Homo sapiens: one gene and its partners. The protein of the gene in region 2 purifies or fractionates together with the protein of the main gene of each other region. This does not show direct contact. Each region holds a gene or a part of one and is shown on either strand. Other genes may lie near its edges.

The links.
Region 1: the proteins of TAOK1 (region 2) and SLIT2 purify together in Homo sapiens (affinity purification with mass spectrometry, with the first as the bait; one large-scale study listed by BioGRID). This does not show direct contact.
Region 3: the proteins of TAOK1 (region 2) and RASSF2 purify together in Homo sapiens (affinity purification with mass spectrometry; one large-scale study listed by BioGRID and IntAct). This does not show direct contact.
Region 4: the proteins of TAOK1 (region 2) and TRPC4AP purify together in Homo sapiens (co-immunoprecipitation; one large-scale study listed by IntAct). This does not show direct contact.
Region 5: the proteins of TAOK1 (region 2) and RCC1L purify together in Homo sapiens (affinity purification with mass spectrometry, with the first as the bait; one large-scale study listed by BioGRID). This does not show direct contact.
Region 6: the proteins of TAOK1 (region 2) and CPNE2 purify together in Homo sapiens (co-immunoprecipitation; one large-scale study listed by IntAct). This does not show direct contact.

Annotation. Positions count from the first base shown.
Region 1 is NC_000004.12:20,250,473-20,254,704, reverse strand, and holds the start of SLIT2 (slit homolog 2 protein isoform 1 precursor), read right to left. Parts: upstream 2,801-4,232; 5' UTR 890-2,800; coding exon 711-889; intron 473-710; exon of another isoform or gene 404-472; coding exon of another isoform or gene 327-403; intron 1-326. UniProt on the Homo sapiens protein: Thought to act as molecular guidance cue in cellular migration, and function appears to be mediated by interaction with roundabout homolog receptors.
Region 2 is NC_000017.11:29,543,863-29,547,362, reverse strand, and holds part of TAOK1 (serine/threonine-protein kinase TAO1), read right to left. Parts: 3' UTR 1-3,500. UniProt on the Homo sapiens protein: Serine/threonine-protein kinase involved in various processes such as p38/MAPK14 stress-activated MAPK cascade, DNA damage response and regulation of cytoskeleton stability. Phosphorylates MAP2K3, MAP2K6 and MARK2.
Region 3 is NC_000020.11:4,785,609-4,789,108, forward strand, and holds part of RASSF2 (ras association domain-containing protein 2), read right to left. Parts: intron 2,661-3,500; coding exon 2,609-2,660; intron 2,147-2,608; coding exon 2,025-2,146; intron 721-2,024; coding exon 623-720; intron 1-622. UniProt on the Homo sapiens protein: Potential tumor suppressor. Acts as a KRAS-specific effector protein. May promote apoptosis and cell cycle arrest. Stabilizes STK3/MST2 by protecting it from proteasomal degradation.
Region 4 is NC_000020.11:35,040,808-35,044,307, forward strand, and holds part of TRPC4AP (short transient receptor potential channel 4-associated protein), read right to left. Parts: intron 1-3,500. UniProt on the Homo sapiens protein: Substrate-recognition component of a DCX (DDB1-CUL4-X-box) E3 ubiquitin-protein ligase complex required for cell cycle control.
Region 5 is NC_000007.14:75,060,303-75,063,802, forward strand, and holds part of RCC1L (RCC1-like G exchanging factor-like protein), read right to left. Parts: intron 3,042-3,500; coding exon 2,990-3,041; intron 990-2,989; coding exon 905-989; intron 1-904. UniProt on the Homo sapiens protein: Guanine nucleotide exchange factor (GEF) for mitochondrial dynamin-related GTPase OPA1. Activates OPA1, by exchanging bound GDP for free GTP, and drives OPA1 and MFN1-dependent mitochondrial fusion. Plays an essential role in mitochondrial ribosome biogenesis.
Region 6 is NC_000016.10:57,099,083-57,102,582, reverse strand, and holds part of CPNE2 (copine-2), read right to left. Parts: intron 1-3,500.

The DNA of each region.
Region 1 (4,232 bases), on a different chromosome or scaffold from region 2:
CGCTTAACGGATGGGACACGGTCCTCCCTCGCAGTCGCCCGCTGAGACAAGTCCCTAGGGGCCTGACGCCGTCTTCCCCTCCCCGGAGAAGTGGGGGGCGGGGGGCTGCGCGAGGCTACTATGCGAGGTGTCGCCGTCCTGGGGCACCCTTCTCCCCGCGACCTGTGAGAAGCACCCCCAGGCACTCCATGACCCCTTCTTCCTAACCTTCGCCCCCAGGAGGGTGACAAAAAATCGGGGAAGGCAAGTTTCTCTCTTTTGAGTCTCCCTGCTATCCCCTCCGCGCCAGCCTGCGACAAGAGCGAGGACTGGGCTCTGAAACCGACCTGGATGCTGGCAATCGCAAGGTGACTCCGTTTATGGACTCTGGAGAACAAAGTGGCGTCTCACTTGCCCCGGGCATCCTCCAGTACTTGTCCCCTATCTACCCGCTCCCCAGCCCCAGAGAACTAGCCAGCAAGGAGCTGCGAGTGGCGGGACGAGAGCAGGGGAGGGAGAACTAGCGCAGCTGCCAGCGGACCCGCCCCTCCTTGGACAGAGGCCCTTCCCTGGCCAGTGCCCTCCCGGAGAGCTCAACCCCAGGATGTGCATGGGGGAGAGCTAGCGAGGGCTGCCCCAGGCACAGGACCCTGAGCTGACAGGTTCCTCCAGTGGAGGCAGGGGTGCGCGGCCCGGATGGGGAGAGGGGAAGACGAAGAGCGCATACTCACAGTCTCTCGGTGTTGCGGGGGATATTCCTGGGCACGCTGCGCAGCGCCAGCCCGTGACAGTCCACTGTGCTGCCCGAGCAAGAGCACTGCGCCGGGCACGCCTGCGGTGCCACCTTGTTCAGGATCGCCAGCACTAACCCCAGCGACAGGGACAGCATCTGCCAGCCAACGCCGCGCATCTTTCCCCGCCGCCTCCTTCCTCGCCGGCACTGGGGGCTTTCTTTAGCTTGCTGCTCCGAGGGAACCGCGCAGTGTCTGAGGCCCAGTGCCCGGCGGGGCTAGCAACCCAGAGTGCCAGGGAAAATGTGCACCAAATAATATGGAACAAGGCAGTAGAGCCCACTCAGGCACACGCCTCCCACCGCCCTCTCCACCCTCCTCTGGCAGAGCAGGAGCTCCTTGGGCAACTTTAGGTCCTGAGGATGAATCCGCCTGGCCAGGGCTGCAAGGAGACCCCAAGAGCAGCGGAGAGGAGATCACGCGTCTTCTGTCTCCCAAGGATGAACTTGGCGGTAAAAGAGCTGGGGCTTCCAACGGCTGCTAAGATGCAGGGGCCGGTTGTTGTGGGGAGGGCGGTCCTCTGATCCCACGCACGCTTCTGCAAATCCGATGCCAGTGGCGAAGGTACAAGACAGAAGAGGGGATCTCAATAGGTATTATGGCCCCGATCAAAGTGGGCTCCGGAAGCTAGAAGGCGCGGAAGCCCAGCGGGCCCGTAGCAGAGCGCGCGGGGCAACTGGGCATGGCGCGCGGGGGTGCACGGGGCGGACGCGCAGTTCTGGGGGCGCACGGCTCTGGACTCTGCTCACTCACGCGGCCTCTCCCTCGCCCTCGACTCCGCCGCAGCCTGGACCGGTCCTCGCGGTCTCCCGACAGCCAACGATGGTTTACAAACACACATGCACTTCGCTGAAGGATGTCTGGGCAATCCCGCCTCCCGCTCGGCGTCCTTGGCGACGCTCTGCACCAGGACCTGCCCCGAGGTCACGCAGAAAAGACAAAAGGGCAGTCGGGCCGCCGCAGCCGGGCAGAAATATCCACTAGTCAGCACTCCGGCGAGGAACTCCAAGAGGCCAAGTGGAGGATGAGAGCTGCTGCGAAGACTGAGTGGGGACTGACTGGGGGCGGACTTAAAAACCAGGCAGACCGGAAGGAGTGGAAAGGCAAAGGCCAAGGTTGGAGGTGTCAGCGTCCTGCTGGGGCGTACTGGAGAATGGCTCGGTGGCAGGTGGGCGGGTGGGATCCACTACTCCAGGCAGAGCCAGGCGGCAGCTGAATGGCAGTAGTGTGTGCGCGCGTGTCAACCCCGCTCGTCTCCCAGATAAGCCGCAGCTCCGCGGCAGACACCTGATGGCAAAGGTAGAAGAAACAAGAGCCGGGTTCCGGAGGGCGCAGAGCCACGGCCGGCCCCCGGCGGTCTCCCACTAGTGGTTCGTCCTTCTCAAAGTGCAGCAACTTTTCCCAGGCTTTGAATTCCGTCCCCCAAGGCCACAGTGGCGGTACCCCTGCCGGCGTGGCGACGCCGCCCGGCTCCTGGCGCTGCACCTGACGCGGCGGCCGCAGTCCCGGGTAGTCCTTCTCCTTCTAGCCCCTTCCCCTCTCCCGCTGCTTTCCTGGCCTCCCGCTCCAGGGAGCGAGGTCGGGGAGAGGGAGGGCGACGACTCAGAGCGGGGACTCGGTGGCTCTGCCGACTCCGGAGCCCCTGGCAAGTGTCTAAACAATAGGACGGACGCAGCAGCCCAAGTCTCGCTTGTCTGGAAGGAAGGTGGGTTGTTGTCGTAACTGGAGTTGTTCGCTGGGGCTGACTGGCGCTCAGCGTAGCCAAACAAAAACCCGGCCCGCGCCTCCGGAGCCGGCTGCGGGCCCCCGGCGCTCCCCTTTCTGCTCAGCACTCCCGCCGTGCCCAGAAAGCGCGGCAGCTTCGGCCTGCGCCTGGGCGCTTCGGCGCTCCCATGCCTCGCAGCTGCCTCCGCCTCCGCCGCCGCCGCCGCCGCCGCCTTCTTTTTTTTAACCACAGTCTGCGGCAGCCACCACCACCGCCGCCGCCAAGCTCCGCCGTCCGGGCGCTTCCCAAATAAATAACACCAAGTCCGAAGTTGAGCCGGCGCGGGCCTTATATAGCCGCCCGAGCCTCCGCCCCCTGACCCCGCCCCTCGAGGCCCAGGCCCGCCCCCTGGCTCCGCTCTGGGAGCCCGCACCTCGCTGGGGAGAGGGGAGAGGTGAGGCCGGGGCTGCCAGCGCTGGGCGGAGGCGGCGGCTGGCGGCGCGCGTTCCCGTGCGCCCTGGCTCGCCCCCTCGCTCCCACGCGCGGGCAAACTTGGCCCGAAGAAGGAGCCACCCGAGCCCCAGCCCCCAACTCCTTGGCCCCAGAGGTGACCTGGGCTCGGAGATAGTCGTTTGCAGTGGGAGAATGGGAAGAGGTCGGCTTTGAACGCGGCTCATAAATAAACAGCCCTGCCAGTGCCTCTCCTGCAGCTTTTGCCACGCGATCCTTAAGGGGGCTGCTCACTCTTTGCAGCGCAGCAAGAGACAGAGAGACAGAAACAGAGAAATTATGATTTAAATTTAAGAAAAATCCTACCGAAATAGATCTGCCTGCGCTTACAGACACACACGTGTATTTTGGGGAGCTGAAAAGTTCAGTTTTTGCAAGTTGGAAAACAGCATTTTCCAACCTTCTTGCTTGCCTTTCTATCTCCAAGCCACCCCCTTCCGTTTAACCCTTCCTTTGTAGACACACACTGAACCACACCGTGGTCAGTTGATGTCTTGGATATTCAATAGGCTCACAAAACTCTTAAGGGCTTGAACGTATCTGTGTGATTTTTTACTCTCTTATGAGAGAAAGGAGGGGAAAAAATAAATCCCTAGCAACGCACATTATACCAGAAGGTTTTCTTTATTTCAGGGCAGTTCTGGATATTTTTTTCCCCGCTATGTTTTGAAAGAGAATTTCCTTGTTTCATCTTGTCTCTTTAGTGTGACGTATGTCTGGCAACGGCTGCCTCTCTCGCCCCCCTTTCCCCCCCAGCAAGAGCCAATGTCACTGTAAGTTTGAAATGACATCTAAATGACTCTGCTCCTTCTCTTGGATTTAATATGCATCATATTGTTGTTCTTCCTCCCATTTCCACGTTAAGAAGCTTTCCCTGGAATTTGTGCAAGCCCCCGCCTAATACCAGCCTCATATTGTAGTAGTTATTTGTATAATTATTAGAAGCTTCCTTGAAAGCAAGACCTGTCCAACTCTTTGTATTTCCAGCATCTATGCCTGCCACATAATAGGTTTCCTCATAAGTAACCGATTTCTTTAACTCAAGAGTATGCTCAACCTAAAATCTCTGCAATATCCTCATTAACGTTTTTCCTGGTTAACATTTTCTAAGATGTCCTTTCATAATGGCTACCCCTACTTACCTCATTTTGCCTGCCTTGGAAAACGTAAGCCTTTTCGAGGACACGCCCAAAGGCAGGGTACCATCTGATAACTGAATTGGAACTCTTAGGATTACTCATTTTAAT
Region 2 (3,500 bases):
CCTCACCCAATACCAAATCCTTCTCTCCCAGTGGCCATTTCCTGTTGATTTTACAGTTCAGGAGAATCTTAGATGCTTTAGCAGTAATTCCTTTCTTGGCTGTTTTGATCCTCAGCAAAGTATATAATTATTAGTATTAATGGAGTAAAAAAAGTAAGAGGATCAATGGTATCACTACTAAGAAATACATATAGAAAGCACATAAAGATTGTGTGATTTATTGGTTCTTTTTCTTATCATCTTTGCAGAGGAATCACCATCAGTGTTCTTACTTTCCATGGTTCATTTCTCTCTGCATTACTTATCTCTTATTGCATCACAACACAAACTCACAGAAACACTAACTGGCTCCTTCCCCAGCACCATTTTACTGCATTGCAACTTATGATTCCAAATTTTACTTAATGTCCTCTCCACTCACAGAAGTGCTAAGAGGGGATTAAAAAGGAAAAGACTGCATCTAATGACCACCTTCTCATAAACATCAACGCAGAGTACTCATTCTTAAGAAACACATGCATTCTTGCCTTAACTGAGGACTGAAATAACAAAACCAAACAAAAATAACAGAACTTTTAAGTGCCCTGATGGAAATGTACAGTATGAGTTACATCCATCCATCTATACACACATACAGACACTCATATGTATATACAATATATACATACAAATGATAATAGCTATACCAAAAATGTGCATATTTAATACAGTTTTAAAAAGCCAGTAGATCATGGTATAATACAATTTATTTCCACTAGTGAATGGCACAAATGGAGAAATGCAAAGGAGGTGTTTCAAGTACAATGAAGTCATTTTTCACAGGTGAAAATAAATAGTATTATTCCAGTGTCCAACATAATGTATTCTACAAAAGTTTAAAATGCCAGACATTTAGTACTTACAGAAATAGAAAGTTACTAAAGTCTGCTTTATGGTCTCAAAAAGACACTCATAGAGTTTTCAATTTTTGAAAAGGGGGTGAGAAAAAAATTGGTGGAAGCAGGAGGGAGTGTCCAGGATAGTTTCTTTAGTGTACTGAATGTTTACCTGATGTCTAGGCAACCAAAAATCATGACTATGCTAAAATGTTCCATTTACCAACAAATCCTTGACCTAGAGTACTAAGCATATTACACCAGTGTGTGTGGCTTCAAATACAAGACTCTCTATCTCTAGGTATTGAAATGGCGAATAAGAATTGCAGCTCTGAAAATATAATATAAACACATTTTTCAGATAGCATTATACAAATAAAAATACTTTTGGATACTAGAATTTGGGGTTAGAGCTGACTTCAATAAGGGGAGGAAAAAATATGTGCAAAGGGAAGGGAGCTCAATTTGGAATAATATATTTCAAAGTATGTGGCTTTGCATTTTTAAAATGCTAACCAAAAAAAATGTGAGATAGAGTGACCCCAAGGAACTTTTTACAGCCAGCCTCTGGATACCAGATATAGCATTTACAACTTCTGATATGCTAGACAAATTTTCCATAGTTTTAATTTTCTTAAAGACATATAGTGAGTGAACACCAACACTGGGAAGGAGGTAGTGTTAATTTGATCAAATATTGATATTTCCCCACTGATTCAGAAAGTGCTTGCTCTTTCTCTAGGATATCTCAAAACCCTTCCAATTTTTCTGCTACAAGCTTTACTCTATGATGGTTCCTACTATGTATGAGATTCCTCAGAAGCTAGATCTCACAAACATATACAAACCAATTAATTTGAATCATTTTTTGCAAACTGTATATACTTTAAAGTTAACTTAATGATAAAATCCAGGTATAGTCATGACCTACATGTAAAACTGGTGGCCAAATACATTAGATACAAAACCCTACTGGAGATCTGAATGGACTCAGTAACTCTCAATTTGACTAATTTAAGTCCACAATTGGACTTTAAAATGTACCACCAATAATATTTTGGGTTTGAAAGAGTTTTTGTATGCAAAAGTGATCTGCTTCCCTATTCCACCCATCCAGTAGTACAGAGCAGCCAGATCTATGAATAATTTTTAAGGGTATCAAATTGTATTTTTGACATTTTATTAAATTCTAAAGCTCTCTCGTCATTTTACACCAAATAAGTAATTTCTCAATTTGTTGGAAACGCTATAATACCTGAATGCAAAAAAGATACTGAGACGACTAAAAGCCCCTTTCACTGATATTACAAGTACATGTCATGTCATGTTTACCTAAAAACCGGTGACCTGGAGCATGGGCTGAAAGAACAACACATAAGAGTGCTTCTTGAAACACTGCCTAAAATTTTGTGTGAACTCTATGGTGATCTTGGTTTTAAAAACATTTACATTAAAACATTAATTTTCTTCCAGTTTCCTTAAAATGAATCCCAGAAACTCCTACAGGTGAGGATTCATGGCAACTCGACTGACATACCTGGGAAAGACTTAAAATTTGGTTGAGAAAACCAGGACTTCAACAGTGATAGATTGATTACTGTTTGGTCATTAGTTTGGTCTAGGCAAAGAGTGCCATTGAGAGGGACTTAGAGAGTTCTACCTTGGAGCCCTCTGACTATAGGAAAAGCAGGATCCAGAGTTAGCAGCAAGGATTCTTCAAGACAACTTGGAAGGGAGCAGGACAATAACTTGTAAGAAACTCTGATTTGTCACTGAAAAGGATATTTTTCTTCAAGTCATACTCACAGCTTCCTACCCACCTCCAACACAATTTATATACAAGAAATGGAAAACCAAGAAAATAACTGACTTTTTAGCATTGGGTTCATCCTTCATTGTACAACAAAACATAACAAAACAAAACATGTGCCCCCTGAAAAATAAGAGTTAGCTTTCGTCAAGAGATTCCCTGACCACTATAACTTATTTTACTTTTTTTTTTTAATTGGCCAAACTTCCTAGTTCCTTTTCAGTAGTACTTTAGCACTGAGGCTTGAGACTTGTGGAAGTGGTGTTTCCTATTGTGTGATGTTAACTTGATGCCAAATGGTCACTAAGTCTCAACGAACTAGAAGTTTGTAAAGTACTGCAGCAACGAAAACAGCAATTAAAAATAGAGGACCTGCACATGCAGCAAAATCTACAGTGGTGATGAAGATTAGTCAGCAGCTGGTAAAGTCATTGGCTCAGTGACTCCTGGTTCACTGTGGCAACTAAACATTTAAATAATTGGCTATTCTACTTGTAAACAGAAAATCACATAAGCCAAAAGGAGATAACAATTATGTCTATGTAGTGTGACGAGAATTTCAATAGATGGCAATTTGCAAATATGGCATCAAACACCTCCGGCATTTGATTTGTATTGGCTATATGTCTTTGTTTTTGTACAAACAAAGTAAAAGTACTGTTTGGGGTCTTGGGCATTATAGAGCTTAGCTAGGATGAGATATCACAGTATAAGCAACAAAACGTCAGGACACGTAAGCTTCATCTCCTCACTCTGCTGCGGGACATACCCACCATATGAACTTTCAGGGCCCCTCTCACCCTTCTGGTCTTCCC
Region 3 (3,500 bases), on a different chromosome or scaffold from region 2:
GAGGAAGGGGGAGAGGAGAGGATTTTGGAGGCCAGTAGCTCAGGCTACATCCACGGCTAAGACAGCCTTCCTGAAATCCCTGGAACCTCCGGGTCTTGGTTAGCACTCCTTGCCTTCACCCCTTCAGGCAAGGGGTGGTAACACTAGCCCCAGGGACTGCACTATCCCTTGAGGTTACCCCAGACTCTGCCCAAGTCTTCGCAAATAGTCCCTTCTTCAAACACCCGTCAAAGACCCTCATCGGAGTGAGCATCTGTCTCCTGCTGGGAGCCTGATCGTATACTTAAGAAACCAGCGTACAGTCACCTTCCCTATTTCTGCATCTAGACCCCAAAGAAATTTTAAACCAACACCTTCTTTTCAGAGTCTTTCCATAAGAGGGAGGACAAGAGACACTTTGATGTCCCACATCAAAACGAGAAGCTGACACAAGAAGTAGATGAACACACTTAACTGTCACGTCCTCACTTGAAATCCAGGTTTGTCAATGGGCAGCCCTCCAAAGAAAGCCGAGACTCAGGCCCATGCAGCAGCTCAGCACAGTCCCTGCGAGGACCCAGCAGAGGCCCCTCTGTTGAGGCCCCAGGAGAAGTGCACCCAGTGCCCCAGAAGCCACACTTACTTGCGCATCAGCTTCTTTACTTCCCGATCTTCTTCCTCCTGGAGCTTCTGAATGAAGCTTTTAAGTACCGGCATCTCGAACTTTATATACTGGGCCACCTAGAGAGAAAGAAGCAAGTCTGGGTGAATGCCCTTCCCAGCATTATTCCAATTCCTTTCAGGGTTGTCCTTATACAAGGCACAAAGCCTTGGGAAGTCTATTTTTTTCAGAAACCCAGGATTTCCTTAAAGGCAGCAGCCAAGCCTCATTCCTCACCAGGGTGGGAAGGAGTCTGCGATGATCGCTTCGCTTACGTGACACCATCTCATAACTTCTCATTTTTCATGTCATGCATTCAATTCATGATGAGGTGAAGCCAAACACAGAAAAGTACTTTCTTTTGACACAGTGATGCAGAGAAAGAACTGAACCCATTATGTTTAATAAACCCCTTTGTTCTCCCCTAAGAGAATGGAAGGAATCAGGGTTCCAGATGACGATTTGGGTCTCAAGGCTCAAACAAGCATCCAAATATGAACTCGCTTTGGAGAGGCTGTGGGTGGCTATGGGGTGAGTTAAAGTTTAAAAACGGTGCCAGGCATCGTGGTTCATGCCTGTAATCCCGGCACTTTGGGAGGCTGAGGCGGGCGGATCACTTGAGGTCAAGAGTTCAAGACCAGCTGGCCAACATGGTGAAACCCCGTCTCTACTAAAAATACAAAAATTAGCCAGGCATGGTGGTGCACACCTGTGGTCCCAGCTACGCAGGGGTCTGAGGCAGGAAAATAGCTTGAACCAGGGAGGTGCCACTGCACTCCAGCCTGGGCAACAGAGCGAGACTCCATCCCAAAAAAAAAAAAAAAGTTAAAAAATGGCTTCCCTTTCCCCACAAGAATCCCCACCCTGCTCTATCAACTCTTCTCCCTGGGATAAGTACATTTCTCTACCCTATTAATGCTGAGCTTGTCCATGTGACTGGCTTTGGCCAGTGGAATGTGTGTGGACATGACACACCAAATCTGAGTGGAGGCTTCAAATATGCTTACATGATTTGGCCTGGTTTCTCATGCTCCGCCATCTGCCATGAGGACCACACCCATGTGCAGTAACTACTGCCCCAAAAGCCTGGGCCTCTGGGTGAGTCACACAGTGCAGACTTGAACTCAACCCATACTTAGAGTAGAGCCATTGCTACTAGACCACAGAATCATGGGCAAAAAAGCAAATGTTTGCTGTTGTCAGCTACTATGATTTGGAGATGTTTGTTACTCTGCAAAAGCTGGCTTCGAGAGAACCTGGTGCTGAAGAAGTAAAAGGGGGCATGGTCGTTGGTCAAAAAAGTCATTCTATACCCCAGTTACAGGTGGTCCAACCAAATCCCCACCCTCCTGAGGACAGATCGCCTGACCCAAAGGGAACTCACGTCGTAGGTGACTTCCTCCACCTGGTCCTTCTCCATTAGGAACACTTTGGAGATCTGCTCACATGGGCCCTGGAGGATTCGGGCAATCAGCGGGTAATCGGTGGCCTTCAGCTTCTGTTTCTCTGCAACCACACACACCCAGGAGCAGCCCTGAGAGGCCTTTCTCACATTAAGTAGTGGTTAATGCAGGGGTCCAAAGGCACCTTAGGAGATGCCGCCATATACGTCAGGAGACTGATTTATAAGTGAACTATTCCATAGGTGTTGTGAAAAGCAACTTCCTCCCACTCCTCACCCCTCAACAATACCACCATGCCTCAAACTCCTTGGAGGAATTGGGTTTATCTGTCTCTTAAGAAAATCTAGTTCCTCTTTTAATAGGCAGTTAGGTTTAGAATTTGTTTACTGGCCATATAAGGCAATCCCTAGTAGACTCATACAGCAAGCCCATCAGCCTTGAAGGCAAACAACATTTGGAAGTTTCCAAAACTCAAACAACAAGCAAAGGAGGCAGAGGTATTTTTTTAACTTGCTATTTTGAGTTAATTAGAAGTTTTAAAGTACACTGTGGTCTTCAGACTTACCACCACTCGTATGGACCACGTACAAGGCAAACTCCTCTGCTGAATTCTCAATCTGAAGCAGGAGCAAAAGATTCTTGTTGAAAGTTTCTATTTAAACATCCCAACTTCGAGGCTTTTCCTCTTCTTTAGCAATGCAAAGCTAAGTCAATTTTAGGCTGTTTTGAGGGGAGAGCTATTTATCTACAACTCTCAGAAGTGATGAGAAGATCGAGAAGGCAGATGACTTTATCAATAATACAGTCATGCACTTAACCACGAGGATGCATTCTGAGAAATGTGTCACTAGGCAATTTCATTGTTGTGCAAACATCATAGAGTGTGCTTACAGAAACCTGGATGGCATAGCCTACTTCACACCTAGGCCATATGGTATATAGCCTATTGCTCCTAGTGTACAAACCTATACAGCATGTTACTGTACTCAATGCCGTAAGCACTTGTAACACAATGGTAAGCATTTGTGTATCTAAACATATCTAAACACAGAAAAGGTACCATAAAAAATGGATTATAATCTTACGGGACCACTGTCGTATATGTGGTGCATCATTGACCAAATTGGTCATTCTGTAGCACACGACTAGGATAGATAACAGCTATCGTCTATTGCAATGTGCCAGGCATAGTTCTACAAATGTTAAAGGCTTCAACCCATCTAATGCTCACGACGATACCATAGTGAAGTCCCATTATCCTCATTTTATGATGACGAAGCAGAGGCAGGGGCAGGTTAAGTAACCTGCCCAATTCATCCAACTAGCAGGTGCTCAGTGGAGATTTGAACCCAGAGCCTGTGTTCTTAGGTTGTTAGGCTACACTGGCTTCCATTAAAAATAAGAACACCTGGTCTCCAAAAGATCTCTGGTCTCCAAGAGATTGTGGAAAACACAGA
Region 4 (3,500 bases), on a different chromosome or scaffold from region 2:
GTGATCGTGTGAGCCAATTCCCCTAACAAATCCCACCTCATAAATCCTACTGCTTCTGTCTCTCTGGAGACTGCTGCCTAATACAGGGAAGTAATTAAGGTTAAATGAGGTTACAAAGTGTGGGGCCCTAAACCGAGAGGACTGGTGTCCTTCTAAGAAGAGGAAGAGACACCAGAGATCTCCGTCTCTCCTCAATGACAGAGAGGAAAATTCATATGTGGATACAATAAAAAGGTGGCCTTCTACAAGCCAGGAAGAAAGGCCTCAACCAGGAACCAATCCTGACAGCACCTTGATCTTGGACTTCTAGCCTCCAGAACTGTGAGAAAAATAAATGTCTGTTAGTTAAGCCACCTAGTCTACGGTACCTTGTTATGGCAGCTCAAGCTGACTGATACACACACCTGAGATAAAGGCATTCACTACTGGAGCGCAATTCAAGAATGATAACATTCAGAGGACTAAGACTTTCCTCATCCACTCGTGATTTAATTATGTCCACCAGCTTGGCCTTCCCAGGGCATTTGAATGGAGAAAATCGTGCGGGTAAGGGAATGGAGTAGGAATTATGGTCAGGGTTGGGAAGGGTCAGATCCTGCACAACCTCATGTGTGGAACTACAACTTTTAGGCTTTATCCCAAAAGCTACAAGCAGAATCACACATAGACTGTCTACTAGGCTAGTCACACAGATATGAAAGTGAATCTAGATTATTTTATAGAGACTTTAAGAAAAAACTCCCAAATAAAAAAACAAAAACAAAAACTGGGCTTTCCGTTCTCAGTTAATCAAAAAAGCCCAGCTGACCAGAACAGTTCATTCCTCAAGAATAATGGGTAATGCTGGTTTTACTTAAGTCAGTTTACAAATAGGCATCTGAAAGCAATCAATACTAACAGGATCAAAATCATCTGCCAGAATAGATTCCTTAAATGGGAAACTAAAAGATGAAAGTTACTTAGTGCCTCGGCATACACAGGCATCCAATACAGAACCTTTCTAGCCCTCAGTTTCCTCACATGTGCAATGGGGATACTAATCTCTATTCCACAGGGCACTTGAAGGATTAAATAAAATCACTTCTAGGTAAAGCAGTTACCCAGCGTTTGCCACATACCAGGAGCTTAGCAAATACTACCTTTTGTCAATGTATATGGAGGTGTGTACACCAGCTCTGAGGTATAATTTAGTTATAATGAAAGTCACTTTTTTTAAAATTATACTTTAAGTTCTAGGGTACATGTGCACAACGTGCAGGTTTGTTACATATGTATATATGTGCCATGTTGGAAAGTCACATATTTTTTAAAAATGTAAATTTCCTAAAATGAGAACTCCCCCAAAATCATAAAGGAGTGGGAAGAAAACCGTACACAGACCAAGGAAGACCTTGTATCTAGTGACACAGGAGGAAAAGCAAATCTAGAGAGAGAATAAACTGGGGTTGGAGTCCACAAACTTCTACCTTTACATATGACTACAACATGTAAAATTATATTCCCTAATAACCTACAAAGTATAGTTATGATCACCTCATGTTCCTAACTAAAACTAGACAATAACAGAGTGAATGGCAGGTTCATATTCAGCCTCAGGAGAGGAGGCTGCTCTGAAGCACTTGATAACTCTGCAGAGCCAGCCTGGGGAATGCACACAACTGGACTTTAGAAACAAAGAACTGTTTTCAGAGCATGATTAGGGCTACCTCTGCATGGTCATGGTTTTCTACTGCTGCTTTTTAATGATACATTTGTATAATTTTACCTTGTTTATTTGGTGTACCATAAGGTACACAGTGATAGGTTTTTGTATTAACAATATTTCCAGCCTGTTAACATTGAAAAACTAGCTTTTAAGACACAAGTTTCAGTTCAAATATGAATTATCTACACTCTTATGACCAAAATACATCTATGCCAGTTTCTCCAAAATCTGTGCAGGCAACAACATTTTAGATAGAACACAGTTCTTTTGCTACTGAACAGAAATAGGTGGGCTAGATTGGTTAGAATAGTGTTTTGTTTTTAAGTAATATATTTACACGGTTCTAAAATCAAACAATATATGAAAGTATACAGTAAGGAGTCCCACTCCCACTGCTACTACCTTCCCTTACCAGCTACTTCCTATTAATAACCACTTTATGTTTCTTGTGTACCCTTTGTTTCTTTAGGCATACCATATATGTGGGCAAACGTATGGTCTTATTCTCCCCCTGACTTAATACAAAAACTATACCATATACACACTGTTCTGTATTTTCCTCTTTATCATTAATATATCTTGGAGATTTTTCTATAGCAGTACATAGAGATCTTCATTTTTTCAAAGCTACACAATTTTCCATTATATAAATATTGAATACACTAAGCAGTCCAGTGTTAATGAACATCTGGGTTTCTAGTCTTTTGTTATTACAAATAATGTTGCAATGAATAATTTTTTTTTTTTTTTTTGAGACGGAGTCTAATTATGTCGCCCAGGCTGAAGTGCAGTGGTGCAATCTGGGCTCACAGCAACCTCTGCCTCCTGGGTTCAAGCAATTATCCTGCCTCAGCCTTCTGAGTAACTGGGACTACAGGCGTGCACCACCACACCCAGCTAATTTTTGTATTTTTAGTAGAGATGGGGTTTCGCCATGTTGGCCAGGCTGGTCTCAAACTCTGAACCTCAAGTGATCCTCCTGCCTCGGCCTCCCAAAGTGCTGGGATTACAGGCGTTAAGCCACCGTGCCTGGCCTCAGTGAATAATCTTGTACAGTAGTCCTCCCTTAGTCAAGACCCTCACAGTGGATACCTGAAATGGCAGATAGCACCAAACCCTATATATACTATGTTTTTTCTTATATACACACATAACTATGATAAAGCTTAATTTATAAATTAGGTACACTAAGAGATTAACAATAACTAATGATAAAATAGAACAATTGTAACAAGATGCTGTAATAAGAGTTATACGAATGTGGTCTCTCTCTGGAATTTTTCAGTTAATATTTTCGGATTGCAGTTGACCACGGATAACTGAAACCACAGAAAGTGAAACTGCAGACAAGAGGAGATTAGTGTCTATACATCATTATCTATAAAATGAAGGCCCAGGAGAGACTTAGTAGATCAAAAAGTATATGCATTTGTAATTCTGATAAAAAGTAGTTCTTAACTTTTTTTGTGGTTCTGAGCCCATTAACAAATCTAATGAAAGGTATGGAACTCAGTTCCCAAAATAATGAACAGATACACAAAATTTACATACTAGGAGCCTTCACATGGATCCATCTCTAGAGATATTTAAAAGGGGTGCTAGGTGTGGTGGCTCACACCTGTAATTCTAGCACTTCGGGAAGATGAGGTGGGTGGATCACTTGAGACCAGGAAGTCAAGACCAGCCTGGGCAACATGGCGAAACCCCATCTCTACAAAAAATACAAAAATTAGCCCGGTGTGGTGGCACCTGCCTATAGTTCCAGCTACTCAGGTGGCTGAGGTGGGAGGATCAC
Region 5 (3,500 bases), on a different chromosome or scaffold from region 2:
CTGGATGAAGGCAAGAGTCTACAGTTCAGTGCTCTGCCTTGGGCTGCTGGCCAGGGGTTACCCCCATACCAAGTGCCAATAATGACATTTGCCTTTGGGCAGGTCCTGCCTGTCCTTTTCTCTGCAGTTTGTGTTTGTTTGTTTTTGAGACAGAGTCTTGCTCTGTTGTCCAGGCTGGAGTGCAATGGCGCGATCTTGGCTCACAGCAACCTCCGCCTCCCGGGTTCAAGCCATTCTCCTGCCTCAGCCTTCCTAGTAGCTGGGATTACAGCCGTGTGCCACCACACCCAGCTAATTTTTGTATTTTTAGTAGAGATGGGGTTTCGCCATGGTGGCCAAGCTGGTCTCAAACTCCTGACCTCAAGTGATCCGCCCACCTCGGCCTCCCAAAGTGCTGGGATTACAGGTGTGAGCCACTGCACCCAGCCTTCTCTCAGTTCATTTCTATGGGAGCCAGGGCTGAGGGGAATGGAAGGGATGCAAAAAAAAAGTATTACAGCAGGGCACAGTGGCTCCTGCCTGGAATCCCAGCCCACCAAGAGGCCACAGCAGGCAGACTGCTTAAGGTCAGGAGTTCAAGACCAGCCTGGGCAACATGGCGAAACCCTGTTGTTACAAAAAATTAGCTGGGCTTGGTGGCTCACACCTGTTGTCCCAGCTACTCTGGAGACTGTGGTGGGAGGATCACCTGAGCCTGGGAGTTTGAGACTGCAGTGAGATGTGATCGCGCCACTGCACTCCAGCTTGGGCGATGGAGCCAAGAATAGTGTTCCTCAGAAAGTGATAAGAGGTAAGAGCTGAATTAAGGAAGAAGGGTTCTAGCCCATAAATGCCCTACAGCTCACAGCTCCACATGACACGGGCTGAGAAGTTTCACGACCCCAGTGCATGAAAAGAACTCTACCTGTTTGCCCATCAGCACCCCATCCACAAGAATAGACTTCTCCTTTATCCGTCAGGAACAGACTATGATCCTGACCACAGGCGACCTAGCAGACAAACAGAGGTAAGGGGGATGAGAGGAAATACTTAGAACCCTGGTGTCCTCATCCAAAGAAGGACCAGCACCATCGCCTGCCGCTCCTGGGCACCTGGAGCATGGTCCAGGCAGACTGCTCCATGCTCATCTTACTCCTTCTCAATCTACCAGTCTCCCACTGCATTGAAACTGCTCTTGTTAAAGTAAAATGCAGATCTCCAAAGGGGCAAATCCAAGAGCTCTGCCATCCATCCCACGCCATCTCCAAAGAACCACCCCTTCTCCATAACCCTTCTCCTCCCAGCCCTCTCTTCTACTTTCACAGCTTCCAGCCTTGCTCACACACTCAGCCTCTACTTCAGACCCTTTGCTGTTGGGATCTCTCTCCAGGGTGTGTCTCCTGCCCTCCTCTCTCCTCACTCCTCATGCTACCCTGGGAGATGGGAGCCATTCTCAATGCTTAACTGTGGCCTCTGCACTGTGATCTCTGGTCTCAACAACTCTCCTCAGTTCCAAACTCATTTTTCTAACTGCCTAAAGAAAAGCACCATCTATTGAACAATTTTTACACCAGGCATTGTGTTAAGTCAATAACCAAAACCACCTAGTAAGAAACTGAATCTCAGCTGGGCACAGTGACTCACTCCTGTAATCCCAACACGTTGAGAGGCCAAGGCAGGTGGATCACTTGAGGTCAGGAGTTCAAGACCAGCCTGGCCAACATGGTGAAACCCCATCTCTACTAAAAATACAAAAATTAGCCAGGTATGGTGGCACATGCCTGTAATCCCAGCAACTCGGGAGTCTGAGGCACGAGAATCGCTTGAACCCAGGAGGCAGAGGTTGCTCTGAGCTGAGATTGTGCCACTGCACTAAAATAAAAAAAAAGAAAAAGAAACTATCTTGGAGATGTCTGGTAACTTGCACAAAGTCACTCAGTCTAATAGGTGAAGGAGGCCTGACATGGTGGCTTAACCCATAATCCCAACAGTTTGGGCAGCCAAGGCGGGAGGATGGCTTGAGGCCAAGAGTTTGAGACCAGCCTGGCCAGCACAGTGAGAATCTGTCTCTTTAAAATAATTAGCCGAGGATGGTGATGCACACCTGTAGACCCAGCTACACAGGGGGCTGAGGCAAGATCACTTGAGCCCAAGAGTTCAAGGCTGCAGTGAGCTATGATCGTGCCACTGCATTCCAGCCTAGGCAACAGAATGAGACCCTGCCTCTAAAAAATTTCCAAATAAAACCAAAAAGCCAGCCGTATCACAGTATGATTAGTGCTGTGGTGTTCTAAGCCAGCTGTATTTTGCTCTCCATTTTATTCTCATCCCCAGAATAGTGCCTGGCTCATGGTAGGTACCTATCATAAATATTTCAATGCACATATGCATGAATACAGCAAGTGCTGTGATACTTTTGCCTCAGCCTCCCCAGAGGCTGACGTTACAGGTGTGAGCCACCACATCCGGCCTCAGTTAGCTTTTTAACTTGTTCACTCACTAGAGTGTCATCCCCAAAAATCTGTTTTTTTTTGAGACAGAGTCTTGCTCTGTCATCCAGGCTGGAGTGCAGTGGTGCAATCTCTCAGCTCATTGCAGCCTCCACCTCCCAGGTTCAAGCAATTCCTGTGCCTCAGCCTCCTGAGTAGCTGGGATTACAGGCATGTGCCACCACACCCGGCTAATTTTTGTATTTTTAGTAAAGACGGGGTTTCACCATGTTGGCCAGGGTGGTCTGGAACTCCTGACTTCAGGTGATCCACCTGTCTCGGCCTCCCAAAGTGCTGGCATTACAGGTATAGCCACCACACCCGGCCCCAAAATCTTATTAAACTTTGTATCCCTAGAATCTAGCATAAATCCTGGCCTATAGTAAGTAGGCTACAATTTTTACTAAAATAATTTAATTCAGAAAATCCCCCTAACAAATTTGCCATCACCCTACCCAAATCTCAACTTTTCAAAAGCACCCCAGGAACACAACAAGCAGCTCTCGGCCCATCTCTCTTACCTGGACCACCTGGCCATCGAAGTCCTGCATCCTGTGGACTCTGTGACTTTCACTACAGCCAGGAACAAATTGGGAAGAAGCAAGGGATGCGGTCATGACAAGCACTGTGCAGCCCTTTCCCTGTCACCCCAACTGATGGCCCGTCCCCTCCGCTCACACAGTAACTGTTGGGGTAACTCTCAAGGTCAAATCTTAGGTCGAGTCAGGCCTGGTCATGAAAGTAAAGCCAAACAAAATCCTAGGTGATTTTAACACATGGCCAAAGTTGAGAGTGGTGTTAAGGCCCTCCAACAACATACAAGGAACTAGAGGGAAGTGTTTTTAAACACTAAAATGAAAAGAACTCACCGGGCGCGGTGGGTCACGCCTGTAATTCCAGCACTTTTAGAGGCCGAGGTGGGCGGATCACTTGAGGTCAGGAGTTTGAAACCAGCCTGGCCAACATGAAGAAACCCCATCTCTACTAAAAATACAAAAAATTAGCCAAGTGCGGTGGCGGACGCCTGTAATC
Region 6 (3,500 bases), on a different chromosome or scaffold from region 2:
CTGATTGAGAAACACGGCTCTAGGCTCTCCCTCCAGGCTGGTGGACACAGCATAGGGAAGCCCAGAGAGACCATGGTAGTGACGGGGGACTAGGGATTGAATTATGGGCTTGGATACACAGCCCTCAAGGTCTTCGAGGTGGGGCCCACTCCTGGGTGCTGTGGCTTCTGGGACCCTCAGGGCCTCCAAGTCCTTCTGCACCCAGCATATCCTGGCAGTGGGGTCTCATCTCTGATAGCAGAGGCTCCTGTGGTGGCTCAGAGCTGTCACCACGTGTGGTTTCCAGATGGGTCACCTACGCATCTCCCCGGAGCCTGCTAGAAATGCAGCACCAAGCGGGTGCGGTGGCTCACTCCTGTTATCCCCGCACTTTGGGAGGCCGAGGCAGGTGGATCTCGAGCTCAGGAATTTAAGCCCAGCTGGGCAACATAGTGAAACCCTGTCTCTACAAAAAATGGCAAAAAAAAATTAGCTGGGCATGGTGGCATGTGCCTGTAGTCCCAGGTACTTGGGAGGCTGAGATGGGGGGAATCACCTAAGCCCGGGAAGTCAAGGCTGCAGTGAGCCGTGATCATGCCACTGCACTCCAGGCTGGGCAACAGAGTGAGACCCTGTCTCAAAAAAAAAAAAAAGAAAAAGAAATGCAGCACGCTGGGCCCACCCAGACCTGCTCTAGCAGAAGGCCTAGAGTGGTGCCCGTAGGCCTGTGTTTTAACATGCTCTGCTGGTGGTTCTGATGTGGGCTAAGTATACACAAATCACAGGTTAGCTGAGTACGTGGGGCATCTTGTTCAAATACAGATTGTCATCCAGCAGGTCTGGGGAGGGGCCTAAAATTCTGTGTTTCTAACAAGCTACAGCTGATGCTGGGGCTGCCCCCCTGGAACCACACTTTGAGACACGAGGCTACAGATCAGAAGTTGCAATGTGGCCACCCCATGGCTGACCACACCCCAGGGATGGCTCTAGTGTAGTTGGATTTGGCATAATGAGGCAGGTGTCACACTTGGTCTCCATACAAGCCCTGCTGGCTTCACACACCGAGCTTCCAGCCAGGTCTCTGTAGACTTCTGAGTTTGCAACCTCTAGTCTGGATGAGAATGCTCTGTTAACCAGAACCCTCAGCTAACAAGACACCCATTCCCTACGGGCCCTGATGGCTGCTAAGTTTACTGAACTTTTGGGGGGTTGGAACGTATCTTGAATGCATCCAGGTCTAAATTGCCTCCTTCATCCCATTTCCCAGATGAGAAGATCCAGGAAGATAAATGGCAACCATATTAGTCCAGGTTTTCTGGAGAAACAGAACCAATAGGATATCTATCTATGCAGAGAGAGAAATGTATTTTCAAGAATTAGCTCATGCGATTGTCGGGGCTGGAAAGTCCAAAATCTGTAGGGCAAGCCAGAAGGCTGGAAACCCAGGCAGGGTTTCTATGCTGCAGTCTTGGGGCTGAATTCCGTCTTTGAGAAACCTTAGTCTTTGCCCTGAAGGCCTCTGATCAATTGAATGAGGGCCACACATAATGGAGGGTAAGCTGCTGGACTCAAAAGTCTACTGATTTAATGTTAACTGCATCTAAAAACTACCTTTATTTGACCAAACAACTGGTCACCAAAGCCTTGCCAAGCTGACACATAAAATTAACCATCATAGCAATCTTTAGTTCCTAGGAGATCTGTCATGGGGCAGGAAAACAGGGTGTTAGGGCAGGAGCTCTGGGCTAGCCCTTCTTAAGTGTGGGAGCTCAGAGAGCCCACCCCCACCCTGTCAGCTGCAAGAGAAGGGTGAAGGTGGGTGTGGCCATGCTGATGGAGAGATAACCATAATAAAATGAGAATAATAATGCCTGTCCCAGGTCCTTGAAATTCTATAGCTTCACAACATCCCCAAATGAGGTGTTATCATCAGCACTCCCATTCTCCAGGTGAGTAAACCAAGGCTAGGAAGTTGAATCACTTACCCACATGGTTCTGGTCCTCTGGCTCCCAGCCCAATACCACTCTACCTATTGGGCCTCCACTAATGTGACTCTGGACAAGTCATTGGTCCTTCTGTGTCTCAGTTTAGTTTTCTCATCCAACACATGGAAATTACAAAATGCTTGACGCACTGCAGATACTGGCTCAAAATGAGAAAAACCTCTCCATGGCTTTCGGCTGTTCTCAGGACAACATCCAGGTTCCCTGATGAAGCTCTCAAAGTCCCCTCCCTCACACTTTTGGCTCTAGCTCTGCTGTTTGCCACACACAGTTTCAGCAAGTATTTTTCGTGCCTCCCTAATTCTGCATATGCTGTTCCATCTGCCTGGAATGCCCTTCCCCCTTCTTCACTTAGTGATTTCTTTCTTCAAACTCAGCTCAGTAAAACCAAATGCAGCCGGGCATGGTGACTCATGCCTGTAATCCCAGCACTTTTGGAGGCTGAGGTGGGCGGATCACTTGAGGTCAGGAGTTCGAGACCCAGCCAACATTGTGAAACCCCATCCCCACTAAAAACACAAAAACTAGGCAGGGCATGGTGGCTCACACCTGCAATCCCAGCACTTTGAGAGGCCGAGGCAGGTGGATCACAAGGTCAAGAGATCAAGACCATCCCGGCTAGCATGGTGAAACCCCATCTCTACTAAAAATACAAAAATTAGCTGGGCGTGGTGCACGCGCCTGTAGTCCCAGCTATTCGGGAGGCTGAGGCAGGAGAATCGCTTGAATCCAGGAGGCAGAGGTTGCAGTGAGCCGAGATCGCACCACTGCACTCCAGCCTGGCAACAGCAAAACTCCGTCTCAAAAAAAAAAAAAAAAAAAAATCAAAAATTAGCCGGACATGGTGGCGGATGCCTGTAATCCCAGCTACTCAGCAGGCTAAGGCAGGAGAATCACTTGAATGGGGGTGGGGTGTGGAAGTTGCAGCAAGCTGAGATCGCGCCACTGCACTCCAGCCAGGGCAACAGAATGAAACTGTCTTAAAAAAAAAAGCACTATGCACCCACCCCCACCCCCAGGACGGCCAAAATTTTAAAAAGCTGACCATACCATGTGTTGGCAATAATGCAGAGCAACTGGAACACACACAGGTTGCCAGAGGGAGTGGAAATTGGTGCAACCACTTAGGAGAAACATTAGTGCCCAACGAAAACACTCACGTATGTTCACCCAAAGATACACACAGGAATGTTCATGGCAGTGCTAATCCAAATAATCCCAACTGGAACTCCCCACCCAAACCCCCATGATTGGAAGAAGGGAGACATAACTGGTGAATGAACACACAGCAGACCACATACAGCCAACTTGAAGGAAGAACACAGGTAGCAATAACACGGATGGGTCTCACACGTGCTGTGTGAAGGGGGCCAGAGAGAAAGGAGTATGTCATCCTATATGATTTCACTTAGGTGCCCTTAAACATGGACAAAACAAATCTATGCTGCTGGAAGTCAGGATAGCAGTAGGACACGTGGACGGGTGTTACTGACAAGAAGGGGACACCGGGGGCTTTG